Linked DNA regions of Homo sapiens: region 1 is linked to region 2. The links come from fine-mapping of genetic effects on gene expression. A gene starts in region 2. The other region holds a variant in brackets. All regions are shown on one strand. Distances are between the middles of the regions.

The links. PIP is the estimated chance that this variant, and not a neighbour inherited with it, causes the effect. A credible set is the group of variants that fine-mapping cannot tell apart.
Region 1: its variant is the best candidate, but not a certain one, in a credible set for the expression of EIF4G2 in cerebellum (GTEx, PIP 0.51).

The regions. Positions count from the first base shown.
Region 1 is chr11:10,835,054-10,840,433 of GRCh38, reverse strand. No RefSeq gene overlaps it. Among named protein-coding and RNA genes, the nearest start is that of ZBED5, 20 kb to the left of the region's middle. RefSeq lists a silencer at 1,138-1,432. The variant A/G (reference allele first, on the strand shown) is at 2,391.
Region 2 is chr11:10,805,774-10,811,153 of GRCh38, reverse strand. EIF4G2 (eukaryotic translation initiation factor 4 gamma 2) reads left to right here and starts at 2,228. Exons shown (of 22, transcript NM_001418.4): 1 at 2,228-2,449; 2 at 3,773-3,899; 3 at 4,269-4,334; 4 at 5,107-5,247. The coding sequence starts at 3,859. LOC101928053 (a long non-coding RNA gene) reads right to left here and starts at 1,857. Exons shown (of 3, transcript NR_120540.1): 1 at 1,788-1,857; 2 at 1,233-1,297. RefSeq lists enhancers at 1,144-1,750, 1,826-1,875, 2,386-2,645, 3,376-3,455 and a silencer at 2,056-2,105.

The DNA.
Region 1 (5,380 bases), 29 kb before region 2:
ATTTTACGGAGGAAATATTAAAGAAGTGATAGAAGAAAAGTCCATGTCTGGGTGCAGCGGTTTACACCTGTAATCCCAGCACTTTGGGAAGCTGAGGCAGCAGGATCGCTTGAGCCCAGGAGTTTAAGACTAGCTTGGGCAACACAGTGAGACCCTGTCTCTATTTTTAAATATATATGTATTTTTAAAATGTTATAAAGAAAAATTCCTGGCATTACTTTAGTGTAATTTATAAGATTTATTTAATGTCATTTGCATCTAAAAAAGGAGCAAACATTATTTTAGTGCATCTTATTTTTTATTCCACATTGCATCAAAAATTTCATCACTTCATGTGTTTCTAAATCATATATTTATGTTTGCATAATTGTGCTCATTTTTAAACTTTATATATATATATATATATATATATTTAATAGAGATGGGGTCTCACTATGATGGGGTCTCACTGTGTTCAAGACTGGTCAGTCTTGAACTCCTGGCTTCAAGCAGCCCTCCCACCTTGGCCTCCCAAAGTGCCAGGATTATAGGTGTGAGCTACCATGCCCAGCGTAAACTTTTTATTTTGAAATAAAGTTAGACTGGCTGGGTGTGGTGACTCATGCCTGTAATCTTAGCACTTTGGGAGGCTGAGGCGGGCAGATCACCTGAGGTCAGGAGTTTGAGACCAATCTGGCCAACATGGCAAAACCCCATCTCTACTAAAAATACAAAAATTAGCCAGGTGTGGTGGCGGGCTACTCAAGAGGCTGAGGCAGGAGAATCACTTGAACCCGGGAGGCAGAGGTTGCAGTGAGCCGAGATCACACCATTGCACTCCAGCCTGGGAGACAGAGCAAAACTCCATCTCAAAAATAAATAAATAAAGTTACACTTACAGAAAAGTTGCAAAAATAGTACCAATACCTTCACATAGCTTCCCCTAATATCAACGTATTATATAATTATAGCATAATTATCAAAATTAATAAACATAAGTACAATACCATTAGCTAAATTACAAATACACCTTATATAAATGAGGAGAGAAAACAAGTCAATGGGAATGATTAACCTATATAGATACATACAAAATAGAATAAAGTAGATGGGTAGCTACTACATCTTTATTTCTACAACTGGTCTCGTAAACTAGAATATCCTTCCTTCATTATCTATTCCATCTTCATACTGCCAGCATCTGCAGCTGGTTAATAAACTTCCAGTTAAGAGGAACCATTCTTGGATTTTCTGGGTTAGAGCATGTCTCCCTTAGATAAAGAGTTCTACATAGGCAAAGCTCAAAGTTGTGAAAATAGAAAGCAAAACATTTTGAGTGCATCAGTGGGTATCGTAGTGGGAAGTGTTTATCTCAAGCCTGGGTTTCCCAGCAGATATAGATAAGGGAAAAACCGCGCTTTATGTTGGTTGCTGGTTCACAGCACATTGCTGTAGCACAGGAGTTGGCATGCTTTTTTCTGTAAAGGACCAGATAATAAATATTCCAAGCTTTAAAGACCACACATGATTGATATCTGTCATGTATTCTTTTTTGTTGTTACTGTTACAACCCTTAAAAAGTGTAAAAAAAAAATTCTTAAAATCTGTCCAAAAATAGGATTTAGGGCATATTTGCCCTCAGACTATAATTTGCTAATCTCTGCTATAGGGCGACATCCTAACTTTGCAAAGCATTCCTTCCCTGCTGGGAAACAAAAGACACATACACACAAATGTTCATTGCAGCACTGTTCACAATAGCAAAGACATGGAATCAACTTAAATGCCCATCAATGACAGACTGGGTAAAGAAAATGTGGTACATATACACCATGGAATACTAAATGGCCATAAAAAAGAACGAGATCATGTCTTTTGCAGGAACGTGGATGGAGCTGGTGGCCATTATTCTTAGTAAACTCATGCAGGAACAAAACCAGATACTGCATGTTCCCACTTACAGGTGAGAGCTAAATGTTGAGAACACATGGACACACAGAGAGGAACAACAGACACTGGTGCCTACTTGAGGATGGAAGGTGGAAGGAGGGAGATGAGCAGAAAAAATAACTGTTGGCTTAGTACCTGAGTCACAAAATGGAACAGCTGGAACTGAGTCTTCAAAAAGCTGTTCAAGAGTTCTGAAGACCAGCTGCTTCTGGATGATGGAATGTACAGTAAGACCAGTGAGTCTGTGAGCATAGTATTCTGGGTCACCAAGGATTAACACTTGTGTCTGATAATCCCTTAAAGGTCAAGATATTTCCTCCTGTGCACAATTTTACCCTAGCAAATAGCTATATGTCCTTTTGATTGAAGGCTGAGAGAAAGATACTTTTGATGTAATCACACAGTTCTTTCTCAAAGGTACATAGTATACTCTGTATTCTGAGTCTCTGAACTTCCCAGGA[A/G]TAGAAATAGATGTGGGCTCTGACTTTTAGTGGTGTCTGTAGTCAGGCCTGTGTTTTCCTAATCTAGAGTTTGTTCATTTGCACAAATCTTTAAGTCCTTAGTGAGCTACACATCTGTTTCAGTATTAAAAACTATGATCAATTAGCAACCGTCAAAGATCTCTGTAGGTCAAACCTTTCAATTACCACTCTTGGTAATTGTGCATAATGTTACTATGGCAGTTATGTTCTCCTGTCTGGCCTCTACCACCTCAGGATCCCTCACCATCACTGAAAGTGGAAAGCCCATTTCAAAGAAAAGAAAAAAGAACAAGAAAGGGGGAGGGGGGAAGGCCATTTCAGTGCCAACATATGCAACCTTTATCCCCAGAGGACAGCCATTATAGTAATGTTCAGGGGCACTTGCACTATACTCACCAGTCTATTTATTTATGCTATGGTGTGAAGATAATGTGCTCTAGGTCCTTTGGGGGACACGGGGGTTGATGATCCAATGCAAATAACAACCCATTTCAGGCTGGGCACAGTGGCTCACACCTGTAATCCAAGAGCTTTGGGGAGGCCTAGGCAGGAGGATTGCTTGAGCCTAAGAGTTCAAGGTTGCAGTGAGCTATGATTGTGCCACTGCACTTCGGCCTGAGCAACAGAGCAAGGCTCTGTCGTAAAAAACAAAAAACCCACTTTGAGTTTGCTTTCTTCTTTCTTCCTAAGCCTTTGGAGCTTATCTTCAGCATTATATCAAGACATTTATTCAACCCAGCAATCCCATTACTGGGTAGATACCCAGAAGAATATAAATCATTCTACCATAAAGATACATACACACAAATGTTCACTGCAACACTGTTCACAATAGCAAAGACACGGAATCAACCTAAATGCCCATCAGTGACAGACTGGATAAAGAAAATGTGGTACATATACACCATGGAATACTATGTGGCCATGAAAAAGAACGAGATCATGTCTTTTGCAGGAACGTAGATGGAGCTGGTGGCCATTATTCTTAGTAAACTCATGCAGGAACAGAAAACCAAATACTGCACGTTCCCACTTACAGGTGAGAGCTAAATGATGAGAACACATGGACACACAGAGGAACAACAGACACTGGGGCCTACTTGAGGATGGAAGGTGGGAGGAGGGAGATGAGCAGAAAAAATAACTATTGGCTTAGTACCTGGGTGACAAAATAATCTGCACAACAAACCCGTGACATGAATGTACCTATATAACAAACCTCACATGTACCCCTGGATCTAAAATAAAAGTTAAGCAAAATTTTGGGGCATGCCAGGCGCAGTGGCTCATGCCTGTAATCCCAGCATTTTGGGAGGTCGAGGTGGGCAGATCACCTGAGGTTGGGAGTTTGAGACCAGTCTGGCCAACATGGAGAAACCCCATCTCTACTAAAAATACAGAAATTAGCTGAGTTTAGTGGTGCATGCCTATAATCCCAGCTGCTTGGGAGGCGAGGCAGGAGAATCACTCAAACCCAAGAGGCAGAGGTTGCAGTAAGCTGAGACCAGCCCCTGCACGCCAGCCTGGGTGACAAAGTGAGACTGTCTCAAGAAAAAAAAAAAAAAAATTATTGCCAACCCAATCCTATTTGGTTTCAGTCACCAGTTGAGTCTAGTTTTTAATTAATCAACCGAGCATAACTAGAACACTCAAAGCTACCTGAACTAGTACCAGAATCTTAGACAAATGTTCTCATATCAATACATTCAGCCCAATCCAAAATTATGTTCCTTTTTCCTTGATCTTGCATCTTCAAGAGTCTATTTCTACATATATTCTCCAGCTTTTTGCCAATGCAGTTTAGCAAAATCTTACCATTCTTCTGACATGTAATCTTTCTCTTCCCAAACTTACTTTATTGTTGGTCCTTTAGAGCAGCGGTCCCCAACATTTTCCAGGGACTGGTTTCATGGAAGACAGTTTTTCCATGGACCAGTATGGGGGATTGGTGGGGAGGGGTAGGGGTAGGATGATTCAAGCTCATTACATTTTTTGTACACTTTATATTATTATTACATTGTAATATGTAATGAAATAATTATGCAACTCACCATAATGTAGAATCAGTGGAAGCCCTGAGCTTGTTTTCTTGCAACTAGATGGTCTCATCTGGGAGTAATGGGAGACAGTGAAGATCATCAGGCATTAGATTCTCATAAGGAGCATGCAACCTAGATCCCTCACATGTGCAGTCCACAATAGGGTTTGTGCTCCTATGAGAATCTAATGCTGCTGCTGTTCTGACAGAAGGCAGAGTTCAGGCGGTCATGCAAGCAATGGGGAATGGCTATAAATACAGATGAAGCTTCACTCACTCACCTGCCCCTCACCTCCTGCTGTGCAGCCTGATCCTAACAGGCTGGGGACCTCTGCCTTACAGCATGTGAGGATCTGACTCAATATATGAATCTGGAGTTAGTTATAGGAGATAGGATAGAGAAGAGGAAAATTGCCATCCCTGTGCAAGATGAGACCTTTATTATCTGTATTGTGTGACACATTACCCAAAATTTAGCAACTGAAAATAACAAGCATTATCTCACACAGTTTCTTTAGGTCAGGAATCTAGAATTGGCTTAGGGGGGTGATTCTGGCTCAGGTTATCTCATAACGTTGGTGTCAAGATGTCATTTGGGGCTTGACTGGGGCTGGCGGATCTGCTTTCAATATGGTTCACTCACATACTTGGCAAGTTTGTGCTGGGTCTTTGTAGCAGGCCTCAGTTCCATGCCATTTGAACTTCTCTGTAGTGTCTTTACAATATGGCATCTGGCTTTCTCCAGATGTAAGGCAGAAATGACAATACCTATTATGATATCTATAGCCTCAGAAGTCACACACCATCATGTCTGCAATATTCTATAGGTTACACAGGTCAACCCTAATGAGTATGGGAGGAGGCTACATAAGGTCATTTAATACTAGAAAGTGGAGATCACTGGGGCCTTCTTGGAGACTGGTTACTGAAG
Region 2 (5,380 bases):
CAGCTACTCAGGAGGCTGAGGCACGAGAACTGCTTGAACCCAGGAGGTGGAGGCTGCAGTGTGCAGAGATCACACCACTACACTCCAGCCTGAGTGACAAAGTGAGACTCTGTCTCAAAAAAAAATTTTTTTTTCTAAAGGTTTTACTTAATGTTTTTATTTAATCTTTGCTAATTGTGAACCCTTCTGCAATGGGCTTTGCAGGTACGATTTCAACTTCAAATCTTTCTATTTAAGTGAGAGAAAGGTAATTGAAAGATTGTTTTATCAATATTTTTACTTTTTCTACCTTAGGTTATTCCCTTCCAGGTCAATTTCTCACATAAACTCATATCTGCAAAGCCCATACCAAAAGGGTTCCCAATTAGCAAAGATTAAATAAAATATTAAGTAAAACCTTTTTTAAATTTTTAATTACTGAATTTTAAGTGTCTTAATTATAAGAACATCCGACTTTTACGGCTAGGTGAATATTCTCTTTGAAGTCTAGACAATAGTTTTTGAATACTACTCTTCTTAGTAAACTAATGTATTCGTTCATTATCAGATAAATGGAATGTAAACCAGTTATGTAAAAATATCACATATACTAATGCATTTTTCCAAACCTTAAAGCCCTACAGAAATTATAAAGAAACATTATTCTCGTGTTATCATGAAGCTAGAAGGGTCCAAAGAAATACAAAGTGAAACCTCTTGTATTTAAAACAAAACTTGCACCACCACCACCACCCCAAAATAGTTTTTTTTTTTTTTTAGAATATCTCTTCCAAGTTTTAAAGTTCAAGTAAAATTGATGTAATAGCAATAAGTGTAGTAACAGTAAAGTAGGGAATGGTGACTATTCTATAGCAAAGATCTACAGATGTTGGAATTGTGTTAAAAACCTTCAGAGCCACACCACAGCCTTCTATTACATTTAAATGTCGTAGGAAAAACTGCAATTTTCCGGAAAATTGTATTAAGGACCAGGTGCTCTAATACCAAGAGCTGTTTTGACACATCAAAGGTTAAGTTTGGGTCTTTGAAAATCCTGCCTCTTACTGAACACTTTAAAAGTCATTCATGTTAAAACACACACATTCTTGCCTTTGACTATACACTGTAAAAGTACTACATGTTAAAATGGAGATGGGGACATTTTTGTTGTTTAAGTTTATGGAAGTATGACTCCATTTTAGTATAGCTACAATGTCGCAAACGATGGAATAAGGTACTCATCAATACATTACCTGGTAAGTATAAATAGTTCAACTTGCCGGCTTTGAAAAGCTTAATCCTATTTCTTATGGTGAACCTTAAATAAAATGAAAATACACAACTGACAATGTTTAACGTGCACTTAAACAAACAAAAAACAAAAAAAAACAGGAGCTAGCAATTCGAAATCCTCCAAACACCCGCGGAAGTCTGACACACAGGGTGTTTTCCTCGGTGACCGCCAGCCGGACATTCCTATGGGAAAAGCAGCTTCTTCTGTGCGGTTCGAAGAAAATCAACCCCTTCCTTTCATCACTTTCTCATTCACTCTGCAGGGGGTGGGCCAATAAGGAGCTGAATGAAGCTCCCCTTTGGCATCCGGGCGCACGTCTCGCCTCCTCCCCACTACTTTCTGGGTTCCCTAAGGCTGCCGAAGCCGAGGACCTGGAGCCGGGTAGTGTCCCGGCGCTGCGCCCGGGGGCTCCAGGCCTCAACCCGAAGGGCTCAGCCCCGGGAGAGGCCAGGCACGCGAGGGCAGCCACAGCTCCAAGGGGCGCCAAGAAAAGCAATGCTCACTCGCCACGCACAGGGTTCGGGGGAGGTAAGGGTGCGTTTTCTTCCCATATTCCCGGTGAGAAAACGAGGTCGAGGGAAAAGGGGATGATACAACTGGAGCATGGCATATGGACTCAGTGAACAAAGGGACTGGAGCAAGAAGCAGCAGCCACGCCAACGCAGACTCAAAAGGGCTCTCCGGCTTTACGCACGCAACCCTCATCTCGACAGCGCTCGGCGCCCCTTACGCCACTGGCTCAGCCTCAGAGACTTCGCGAATATGGCTTTGCGCACTGCGGCGGGGCTGCGCCGCAACCGAGCTCAGCCCTGTGGCTCCTCCTCGCTGCCCTGCGCGGATTGGTGGCAGACGGCAACCGGGCCGCTGATTGGGCGGCGAAGGAGCCATTCGGGGAGACTCTGGTGGGTTCGGCTGCCCCAAGAGTGATAAGTTCGGCTTCAGACACGCCTTAGCGCCAGCAGTGAGTCGGAGCTCTATGGAGGTGGCAGCGGGTACCGAGTGGCGGCTGCAGCAGCGACTCCTCTGAGCTGAGTTTGAGGCCGTCCCCGACTCCTTCCTCCCCCTTCCCTCCCCCTTTTTTTTGTTTTCCGTTCCCCTTTCCCCTCCCTTCCCTATCCCCGACGACCGGATCCTGAGGAGGCAGCTGCGGTGGCAGCTGCTGAGTTCTCGGTGAAGGTGAGTTGAGCCGCTGCCGCCGCCGAGTGGAGCGCTCTAAAATGGCCGCCGTCCCTGGTCGCTTCTTCTCGAGTGGTACAAAATGGCGGCCGCAGGCGGAGCCGGGTGGGGCGACCCTTTTTTAGCATTTCCTCTGCGCTTCAGATACCTGGAAAGTCTTGGCTTTTGTTCTCTCTTCCTGTTGCTGACGGAGTAGAAGGAAAACGTCAGTGTTGGCCAGGCCGCCGTGCGGTCATGGCCGGATGGCCGACGCCTGCAGGGACGAGGCCGTGGCGGACCGAGGCACGGCTGTGCTCGGACGGCGAGGGAGCGTGGCTCGGACCGCTAGCGCCGTGGCGGGAGGCACGCGGGCCGGCAGGGAAGGCCAGGCCGTTGGCGCGGGACCAGGGAACCGCAGGCGTCCCGGAGCCTGGCCTCCCGGCGGGGAGGTGTGTAGGACCTGGAGTCGGCAGGGGCTGCCCTTCGTCGGGGAGGAAAGAGAGAGTGATGATTTCTGCCCCTTTTGTCAGCAGAGGAGGCCGTGGCGAGGCGGTTGTCAGTCCCGGGGGGATTTATGGTGCAGGAGGGGGCCCGCTTGGAGGCGGCGGGTGGGCAGGAGGCCGCCTTCCTGCTTGGAGAACAAAGAGCTGGGCGCCGGGCTGGCGGGGGTGGCCTCAGCTGCTCCTCCCCGTCGAGCGACCCGGGCCTCGCGGGGAGGTTGTCGGAAGCACTTCCCTAACTTGCGCCTGGGTGGGAGGAATGCTCCGCTCTTTTGTTCCCAGGAAGGGAAAAACGGGGCGGAGGTTCCTGCTGCCATGTTGTGGCCCTGGTCTTCCGCCTGCAAGTGCTAGTCCTGTACACCCGGCCCCCTCTCGCGCGTCTTTCCACGAGCTCTCCACGGGGAGGAGGCGAAAGGGTGGACAGGGGAAAACTGCTGAAGAGCTTTCGGAGAGACCTCATCTAGTCGCTGGCCTCGTCAAGGCAGTAAAAATTCCTAGGGCAGACATTTTCCACGTGATGTTGCTCGTGTCTGTAGTTAGACTTTTCTATTGATCTCAGTGCTCAGTTTTAAAGATAGTAGAATGTGGCTTTTTCAAAAGATTCGTTCTGAGCCGTTTAAAATGCTCTTGTGTTCTACGAAGTCTCTTTGCATCCTTGAACACCGGGGAATTTCCAGGTGGCTAAACAAAATGTAATTGTCAGTGTTTTGAGTACATTTTAGGTTAGTCTTACAGATCTGCAATGCAGTGACAGTGCCAGGATCTGAAATACGTTGTAATTGAATGAAGGCTTATAGATCTGTATGTTAGCAGTGTCTAATTTTGGTGCTCTTTCTCGTTCCAGGTATTTCATTTCTCCTGTCCCCTCCCCTCCCCACCCCATCTATTAATATTATTCTTTTGAAGATTCTTCGTTGTCAAGCCGCCAAAGTGGAGAGTGCGATTGCAGAAGGGGGTGCTTCTCGTTTCAGGTACTTGTAGATTTATTTTGGGGAATCCTTTTGAAAAGGCCAGTCTCAAAAAGTAGTTAACACAGCAAATAAGTCCGACTTAATGGGCTGCAATTTTCATTTGAAAAGTTCTTAAGTTTTCATTGACAGCCTTCTAAGAACTGCCATCTGAAGAATAAATAAAATCAATTATTTGCCTTTCCTTTGGGTCCGAGTTCAGTCTTCATTTGTAGCATAATATACAAGCACTAAAATACAGGCCTGGCTCCAGTCTGGGCAAAATAGCGAGACCCCCATCTCTACAAGCAAAGCAAAACACAAAATAGATGCTTATTCTTTTTGAGTGAGACATAGTTGGGATACAGTAAACAATTTTTTTCTTTTAAATAGTGCTTCTTCGGGCGGAGGAGGAAGTAGGGGTGCACCTCAGCACTATCCCAAGACTGCTGGCAACAGGTGTGGTAAACATGTAAAAAAACAGTGAGCTTTATTTAACAGATTAAAAGTCTTTCCCATGTGACGGTATAATTAAGGCAATAGCCATCAAGACTCCTAATCTTAAGGGGCGTGGTTTCTGTTGGGTATCCTAAATACAGAATATCAGTTCCTGATTATTCCTTAGCCAAATTTTCTAAGTGAGTTGAGACTCTCAAGCTGTTATTTTTTTCCTTATTCTTTGGGTTATTTTTACTAATGTGTTTTTCTGAAATCAGTAGCTATTATTCCTACTGATTGTTATTAGTAAAGTAGTACGCACTCAACATGGTCAATAAAACATTAGAAAGTGTTTATTGGCAGCCGGTACAGTGGCTCACACCTGTAATCCCAACAACAACTTTGGGAGGCAAAGGTGGGAGGGTCGCTTGAACCCAAGAGTTTGAGATCAGCCTGGGCAAGACAGCAAGACCCCATCTCTTAAAAAAAATGTTAATTTTCAAAATGTGGTTCCACAGCGTTGATACTGGGAATATTTACTAGACATGCAAATTCTTAGGCCCCACCCCAAACCAGTGAAAGCAGAAACTGGGTGGGCCCAGCAATCTGTATTAACAAGCCCTTCAGGTGATTCTGATGCACACTACTGTTCCAGAAGCACTAATTTCCAGAGTTGGCTTTCTTGGAGGGGAAGTCGAGAAAGCCTAAATTACTTTTTTCTATGTAAGAGAATTTATGATGTTTAACATTTGGTGTGTGACAATAAGTGTTTTTGCTGATTTTTATTAATCAGCGAGTTCCTGGGGAAAACCCCAGGGCAAAACGCTCAGAAATGGATTCCTGCACGAAGCACTAGACGAGATGACAACTCCGCAGCAAACAACTCCGCAAACGAAAAAGAACGACATGATGCAATCTTCAGGAAAGTAAGAGGGTAAGTTTCAAGGTCTGTTTTACTAAAAGATGGGAAGTGTGGATTAGCTGTGTTTGGTGTGTGTGCTGTATTACTAAGAAGGCAAGGTTCATGCCCAGAGTATGTATGTTTTAATGAATCCTCATGGTAGCAA